Regions from separate parts of the Homo sapiens genome. Here all the other regions are linked to region 2. Evidence: fine-mapped expression QTL. A gene starts in region 2. Each other region holds a variant in brackets. All regions are shown on one strand. Distances are between the middles of the regions. Region 1 overlaps UBR1 (ubiquitin protein ligase E3 component n-recognin 1). Region 2 holds the start of CDAN1 (codanin 1). Region 3 overlaps TTBK2 (tau tubulin kinase 2).

Evidence for each region. PIP is the estimated chance that this variant, and not a neighbour inherited with it, causes the effect.
Region 1: its variant is fine-mapped to the expression of CDAN1 in whole blood (TOPMed, PIP above 0.99).
Region 3: its variant is fine-mapped to the expression of CDAN1 in whole blood (TOPMed, PIP 0.99).

What each region holds. Positions count from the first base shown.
Region 1 is chr15:43,005,551-43,008,313 of GRCh38, forward strand. It overlaps UBR1 (ubiquitin protein ligase E3 component n-recognin 1), which reads right to left. Exons shown (of 47, transcript NM_174916.3): 30 at 1,529-1,734. Among named protein-coding and RNA genes, the nearest start is that of TTBK2, 86 kb to the left of the region's middle. The variant C/T (reference allele first, on the strand shown) is at 1,177.
Region 2 is chr15:42,735,724-42,738,486 of GRCh38, forward strand. CDAN1 (codanin 1) reads right to left here and starts at 1,405. Exons shown (of 28, transcript NM_138477.4): 1 at 1,290-1,405; 2 at 579-1,057; 3 at 152-355. The coding sequence starts at 1,379. RefSeq lists silencers at 632-921, 1,012-1,151, 1,342-1,591.
Region 3 is chr15:42,807,759-42,810,521 of GRCh38, forward strand. The region is part of intron 9 of TTBK2 (tau tubulin kinase 2); the gene reads right to left. Among named protein-coding and RNA genes, the nearest start is that of TTBK2-AS1, 70 kb to the left of the region's middle. The variant G/T (reference allele first, on the strand shown) is at 1,410.

The DNA of each region.
Region 1 (2,763 bases), 270 kb after region 2:
AGGAGCCCCTCTGCCCGGCCACCACCCCGTCTGGGAGGTGTACCCAACAGCTCATTGAGAACGGGCCATGATGACGATGGCGGTTTTGTGGAATAGAAAAGGGGGAAATGTGGGGAAATGAGAGAGATCAGATTGTTACTGTGTCTGTGTAGAAAGAAGTAGACATGGGAGACTCCATTTTGTTCTGTACTAAGAAAAATTCTTCTGCCTTGGGATGCTGTTAATCTATAACCTTACCCCCAACCCCGTGCTCTCTGAAACATGTGCTGTGTCCACTCAGGGTTAAATGGATTAAGGGCGGGGCAAGATGTGCTTTGTTAAACAGATGCTTGAAGGCAGCATGCTCGTTAAGAGTCATCACCACTCCCTAATCTCAAGTACCCAGGGACACAAACACTGCGGAAGGCCGCAGGGTCCTCTGCCTAGGAAAACCAGAGACCCTTGTTCACATGTTTATCTGCTGACCTTCCCTCCACTATTGTCCTATGACCCTGCCAAATCCCCCTCTCGGAGAAACACCCAAGAATGATCAATAAATACTAAAAAAAAAAAAAAGAAAAAAAAAAAAAGAAAAGAAAAGCACAGATTGAGGATTTCAAATTCTGGTTTCATCACTTGTAACTCATGGCCATGGGTAAGTTACTTGACCTCTCTGTGCCTCAGGTCCTTCATCTATAAAATGGAACTAATAGTGATAACTAACTCATAGGGCTGTTGTGAGGATTAAGTAAGTAAATACACATAAAGCACTTAACAAGTGCCTGGCAATGTTAAGTTTTCAATAAATGCTAGTCTTTATTATCACTATTATTCCAAGGAGCTTGTTTTGTTTGTTTTGAGACAGGGTCTCACCCTGTTGTGGACCACAGGCTCATGCAACCATGCCTGGCTAATATGTTTGTAAAGACGAGGTTTCGCCATGTTGCCTAGGCTGGTCTCAAACTCCTGAGCTCAAGTGATCCACCCACACCGGCTTCCCAAAGTGCTGGGATTACAGGCGTGAGCCACCATGTCTGGCCTATTCCAAGGATATTTTAAAATAATAATGATGCTAAAGCAGCTAATTCCTGATGTAATAAGTGCAATAAATTATCTAATTAGCATTCCTGCCAAGAAAATGTTTAACATGATTCTAATCAGGAGGCAACTTAACAATCAGATAAATTCAGAATGTGA[C/T]ACATTATACAAAGCAAGTGGCCTGAATTCTTCAAAAAAGCTACTATCATAAAAAAAGGAGGGACTAATCTGGATTAAAATAGAGTAAAGGAAATATAGCCAAAGCAACACGTGTTTGTTTGGATCCTAAGTGAAAAAAAAAGTCTAGGAATTGAAGACATTTTGAGAACTGTTGGAGAAAAATTGATTTTATATTAGATAATATTCCTGGATTATTATTACTTTCTTAAATATGATAATGGTATGGTAGATATATAACCCTTATTTCCAAATGTTTTTCAAATAGTATTTTCTTTAATTACACAGGCATGAAAAGAAATGCACAAAAGGATATTTATTAAATAATACATACCTCCTGAGAGTTCTATGGGTTTTCCCCTGTGCTGGGTTAAGGCAGTAGATTTCTGGACACAGGCCGATAATACCATGGCATTATTTTCTATTTTCACCTCCTGTTCTTCTTGGCAAAGGATGCACGTCAGCACCTCCTTTTCAGTAACAGATGGACCCCGTTTAGGACCCAAAGCAATTCTAGAGTAGTCACTGACTGCTGGGGTGCTACCAAAAGAAATGATCAGAAATGAGGACACATGTTTTGGTCACTTGTCTTCATATTTTGGTAGATTTTAAGTAACTATAGGCAAGAAATATAAGAAAGATAATAAAAATAAAAATGATATTTAGCAATATTAAGTTAAAAGCTTCCCCCTTTCCTTTGTGGCTTTTATCAGTTATTTGCTTATTACAAAATACAAGTGTTGCTAAGTGCAAAAAACAGATGATAAAATGGAATGTATATTATAATTTTACTTAATTTACTATACCAATAAGCTGGGCTTTTTTTTTTTTCTGGATATAAAAGTAATACAGGCTTATTGAATAAATTTTGGAAAATCTATAATAGTATAAAAAAGTGTTATATTCCCACAACCTAGAGATACCTACTAGTAACCTTGTATATTTCCTTCTAGGTCTGCTTTCTATTTATAATATACTTCTTCATATAAATAAGATCACATTACACAGATCTGCATCCTGCTCTATTCACTTATAGTATCTTACATCATTAAAACTTCTTCAGAAACATTTTAAATGGTTGCACAGCTCTTACTGTATGTGCCATAATAGTTTTTATCCATTCCCTGTCATTAGGCATTTAGGTTTCTATTCTATTTTGGTCGCTATTCAAACTAAAAAACTTACACCTTAATGATTCAGCAATTCTTAGAATCTACTCTTACTGACTGGGCAAAACTCAAGATCTACTGAGGCGTACAATAATATTTAAATAATAGCAAATATTTGTAACATGCTGATTGTGAAGCTAGGCACTGTTTCAAATACTTTACATGTTTACTCAATCCTTACAATAATCCTATGAGGTAGGTGGTATTATTCTGTCTAGAGCAGCTCCTGCAAAGATGTCGCTGCAGCAGTGGAGGCGTGGCTGGGGCAACGTGCTCCATGTAGCCCTTGGGTTGGGAACAGGAGGGAACCCCACCCCTTCCAAGTTTGCAGGGCAGAAGCCCCGTGCTCCCGGGCACAGCTGCAACTGCCCAGCTCAGAAGTGCGTGTTCTGAGCCTCTC
Region 2 (2,763 bases):
GCTACGGCCACACTCAGGTCACTCCAGAGAAGATACCAACAGCCCAGGAGACAAACCCAGAGTCCCCAAGAGGGAAATCAATTTCAGGGAAAACCCCTGAAGATCCCCCACAGCGAGGAAACCGATATCCCCAGGAGCGGCCAGGCCATACCGCTCCTTCCTGAGCATCTCTCGCTCCTCTTGCAGACTTCTGCACCCTGGGGGAAGGCCAAGGCCCCAAGGGCTAGTGTCCAGGGCTGAGGGTTGGGAACTGGGGACACAGCTGATTGGGGGTGAGGTGAAGCAGGTCTTGGGCTTGGAGAGTGACCGCTCTTCGCTCACCGGAGTTGGGTTGATCCTGCGAGAAGGCTTCGTCCTGCTGAGAGTAGCCACAGGTTTTTCTCAAATTCCTATCTTCAAACATCTCCCCTCCACCACCGCAACAGCTAGACCTCTTGCCAAAAAACCCCACAAAAACCCTCACCATCACCCCCAGCCTTCTACCCATCCTGGCGCTCCACTGCGGAGCGCCGAGCTCGAATGACTGACTCCCCAGAGCCTTCGTGGTACCCATCTCCTGCATGAGAGCTGAGTCTCACCCTGTAGGGCCGGGGGGAACCGAGCCTACGGGAGGGAACTCCTCCAGGTTGCTGAGGTTTGGCGGATCAGACAGCGTGAGGCTGGGGCGGCTGGGGCTGCCAGAGCCCCTAAGCCTCCGGCCCCCGGCTCCGGGCAGGCTCTCCCCGCTGACCCCCTCCTCCAGGCCGCGGCCTCCACGCTCGCGGGCCGGCCCCGGGCCCCGCCTCCTGCCCCCGCGGCGGGCCAGAGGGGCCTCGGCAGCGGTGCTCTGGGCCTCGGTCGGAGGGAAAAGCTGGCTGCGCGCCCCGCGGCTACCCCGCGGCGGGCCTCCCGGCCTCCCTGGCAAGGCTGCCGAGGCGCCCGGGGTCTTGGCGGGGGTCGGGGGCCCCTGCGGGAGGACGCGGCTGCTCTGCTCCCTCAGGAAGTTCAACAGGAACGGTACGAATTCTTTCCGCAGGGCCCGGAGTGAGCTCAGCGCGGCCGCCTCCCCAGCGTTATCCTAGGGCAGAAGCACAGGTGGAGGGGCGAGAGGGTCAGCCGCCGGCCCGCGGGCCGTGAGCAGCCGGGGCCGTAGGGCGCGCCTCGGGTGGGCGGCCCGGGCAGCGGCGCCCAGTTGGAGTGCACTCGGCCCGGCTGGCAGCCAGGCGCCCTAGAGGAAGGGGACTGGAGGGCTGGACTCCACTGCGGGAACCGGCTTCGAGTCAGACCTGGGGGCGTGTCACCGCTGTTACCTCCGAACCCTGGGTGCTGCGCGCGATCCACCGCACGACGGCTGCGACCGACACCTCTTCTCGCAGCAGCGACTCCAAAACGGCCGCCATCCCGGTCGGGGCGCTCTGGGGCGACTGCGCAGGCGCCGGCGCGCCGCGGGCGGCCAGGGAGGGGCGGGGCCGGCGGCGGGGAACGACCGTTGGGTCGCGGGATGGGGAGGGACCCGGCTGGCGGGGCGGGGCGGAGCCGGCTGTTGCCCAGACCCACGGAGTCAAGGCCTCGCTGAGTCCTCAACCCCGGCCGAGAGGCCGGTTGTTAGGAGGTGAAATGTGGATCACAGCGCCTGGGGAGGCCCACCTTGGCTGCCCGCCCTGGAGCGACCTGAAGGGAGGGATTCGAGCTGGGAGTGGGGCTGCCGCGGGTCGGACGCCCCTCTAGGGAGACCCAGGACCCGGGAGAGAGGTAGAGGGGAGCAGAGACAGCCACCAGCTTCTATCTTCTGCTCTAAGCACATTCTTTCACGAGTTTAAGTTTCCTAGATCCAACTGGCACCACCCCAGAGAAATTATAATCTAATCTTTCATTTTGACTTTGTTCTTCTCAAAGGCCGATTTTTCAATCCCTTGGCCGAGCAGTACCCATCGGCTTTTCAGCGCTCACCATCAACTGACCATTTAGGAAAGAATTATTTCTAGGAGGTTCTTAATAATCCCCAAGCCACAACCCTTAAAGTGCCTCGGGCCACCCTGCACACAGAATTGCTTGTATGTAGCTTTATTTACTTAAGTGGGTTTACATGAGGTTAATATTTCAACTACTTTGCAGTTTAGATGTCAGTAAGCATATCATGATTAGCTTCTGGGAGCTTGAGGTTTGTATTTTTGGGTTTGGTGTTTTTTGTTTTTGTTTTGTTTTTTTTGAGACAGGGTCTTGCTCTGTTGCCCAGGCTGGAGTGCAGTGGCGTGAGCACGGCTCACTGCAGCCTTGGCCTCCTGGGCTCAAGCAATCCTCCCGACTCAGCCTCCCTAGGGCTATAGCCCAGCTAATGTTTTGGCCGGGAGAGGGCAGCAGATCCAAAGTGCTGGGATTATAGGCGTGGGCCACCACGCCCGGCCTGAGTAATTTCTTAATCTCCTTTATTTAATTTTATTTTGAGATGGAGTCTCGCTCTGTCACCCCCGGGGCTGGAATGCAGTGGGAGGCAGAGGTGGGCGGATCACGAGGTCGAGAGATGGAGACCATCCTGGCCAACATGGTGAAACCGTGTCTCTAATAAAAATACAAAAATTAACTGGGCGTGGTGGCACGCGCCTGTAGTCCTAGCTACTGGGGAGGCTGAGGCAGGAGAATCGCTTGAACCTGGGAGGCGGAGGTTGCAGTGATCCAAGATCACGCCACTGCACTCCAGCCTGGGTGACAGAGCGAGACTCCATCTCAAAAACAAAACAAAACAAAAAAACCTGAGAGAGGATTTTGAAGGTTGCTGCTCAGTGA
Region 3 (2,763 bases), 72 kb after region 2:
ATAATATTCAGAATCTGACAAAAACAATATTTATAGGAACATATCTGCTTTAATCTTGTTTATAATTCTGATATCTTCACATTTATTTTAACAGACAGAAAACATTATTTATGCACTTATAGGGTTAATTTTTCTTGTATTCTCTGTGTAGGAGACTGTTGATCCAAAGTAAAGACTTAATTAAATTTGCCTAACATTTGTTGAAAATTTAGGTGCCAGGTGTAATATGGGGTTAAAAAAATAAGACATGGCTGTTTCTCCAGGATTTAAAAGCTAGTTAGGAAAACAGACTCATACATAAATACTAAGTACAGATAAACTTGATGTAATTTCCCAAAATAATATAATACTTCTCAAAAGCAAATTTCGACCTTTACTGTAAAGTGAGAGACACATGAAAGATTCCTGGTAGAAAACAAAATAGCTACTCTCTCTAGGTCCACAACTGATGTCAAAGTGAACAGCAGCAGCTATTGGATGAGGTGTTGGCCATGTGCAACGTGTTGAAGTAATAATATTCTATGGCAAGATATTCCAATTTTTAAAGATTTATAAAATATACACAAAGTGAAAGTGGCTCTGTAAAACTGCATCATTTAACACTTTGATTATAACAAAAAAACTGACTTTGGTCTTAGCTCAGAATAGACAAAGCTGGAAACATATCATTGCTATTTGACCTTTGATGTAGCTAGGGAAGCAGTCATATTTAATATGGATATGCTTTTTGCTTGTTGCTGGAGGAGGTTTATTGTTTTTTTTAACTTTATTGGTTGTCCCATGAGAAACCTAAAATTTTGAAAGAAAAGACCAGGTATGGTGGCTTCATGCTGGCTATTTCAGCACTTTGTGAGGCCAAGGCAGAAGGATTGCTTGAGGCCAGTTTGAGACCTGCTTGGGCAACATAGGGAAACCTCATCTCTGCTTTAAAAAAAATAAAAAAAAAAAGCCAGGCATGGTGCACACTTGTAGATCAAGCTACTCAGGAGGCTAAAGTGGGAGGATCACTTGAGTCTTGGAGGTTGAAGCTGCAGTGAGCCATGTTTGCACCAACTGCACTCTAGCCTTGCTGACAGACCGAGACCCCGTCTCAAAAAATTTTTTTAAATGAAGAAAATAAAATCTTGAAAGAACAGTAAGTAAAATCAAATTCAGGAATGAATCTCAAACTGTAAAATTAATCACAGGGACAGCATGAATTCACGAGACCATTCAGATTAAAAGTAGAGTTATTTTTCTCAAGATGAAGACTGAGTAGAGAAACAAGAGGCAGAAGCTGCAAAGCTCAGGCTTTTGAAACCTGATGTCACATTGATACTAGTCATTAGAACACACCCATCACTTACATAACATCTTTTTTCAATTATCCTTCTCCTGTCCACCTGCCCTCTGTTCTCACTCACTGCTTA[G/T]GAAAGATCACAGCAGGAAAGAGCTGGATTATTTACAGAATCTGTGAAACAAAGTAATGTTATGCCTGTTCTCTTTCTTTCAAAAATGGAAAATTACCAAACTTTGTTTTGTTATTAAGTGATAGAAAAGCCCTTAGGAGAATGTCCAACTGAAAAACTTGAGAACAATAATTTGTTAGTTTAAAATAATCATTAAGTTTCAAACTTCAGCTGGTAAATATGATAGTCTTCTTTAGATATAGGTTTAAGAAGAGAATGTGATCAAAGTTTTTTACTGTCCTAAATTCCCCTAAGCAAATTTTGTCAATAAGAAACTATTAGCACTCAAGATGGGAAAGTTGGAACAATTTTCAGCTCCTCTTGAATCTAGTCTTACAGGTATAATTTCATTGCTTTAAGTAATGTGAACTGTATACATTTCAGAAAATACATACAAAAGACAAATATAAGAACACATTCCAAAACAACTCACACACAGTGTATTTTCTCAATTTGTTAGACAGTCCCTATTGCTTACAACACAAATTGGCATATGCATGAGAAGACAAACTCACCAATTTAAGGTCTCTAAGGACTCAAGGCTGTATGTTGCCTCTTTGCTTTATATCCTGTTTGTATCTTATACAAAAGCAGCAATTTCACAGAGCAATAATTACTATATGCAAATACATTTACTGTGCTATAGATACTTCTTAGTCTTTTGACTGCACAACACTGACAACACTGTAGAATTTAACTACCATTAACATGCAGTAAAGTCTATGTATTGTCCTTTGTAAATAAGGATGATATACTAATACATATTCTTATTAATCTATGTGTGGCCGCATTTATGTTTTCAGTGGTAGCAATTATTAGGTATTAAGCCCTGACCAAATTCTCCCTGAGAGCAACAGAATCTTCTGAAATACCGCTGGTTGGGGTTAGGGATGTAATTTGTAGTAAACCTAGTCAACCCTTCTAAGGCTCATTAACTGATGCTCTAAGGAAATGATTCTCTGACCACAGGCAAAATGGAGCCAATTTTCACTGACCGCTGTCCCATAGCATATTAACATATGATATGCTGCCCTAAAGCCCTTGACAGATGCATTACCTAGTTGGACATTTCCTTCTGGTCAACAAATTAGCTATAGAATTTACATAATTTCAACTGTCAGCAGTTCTATACGCCGAATGAATCATGCAGGAATAGGAAAATCTGTTGCAAGATGAATAAACCTAAAACTCGAATGAAGTTAAGTCCATCCAGAGGGATGAAACACATAACACACACGCTGACACTCTCATCATAAGTTAATTTCACCATGTTTCTCAGGATGTATTAAAACAGTCGTATTCTAAGGACCTCCCC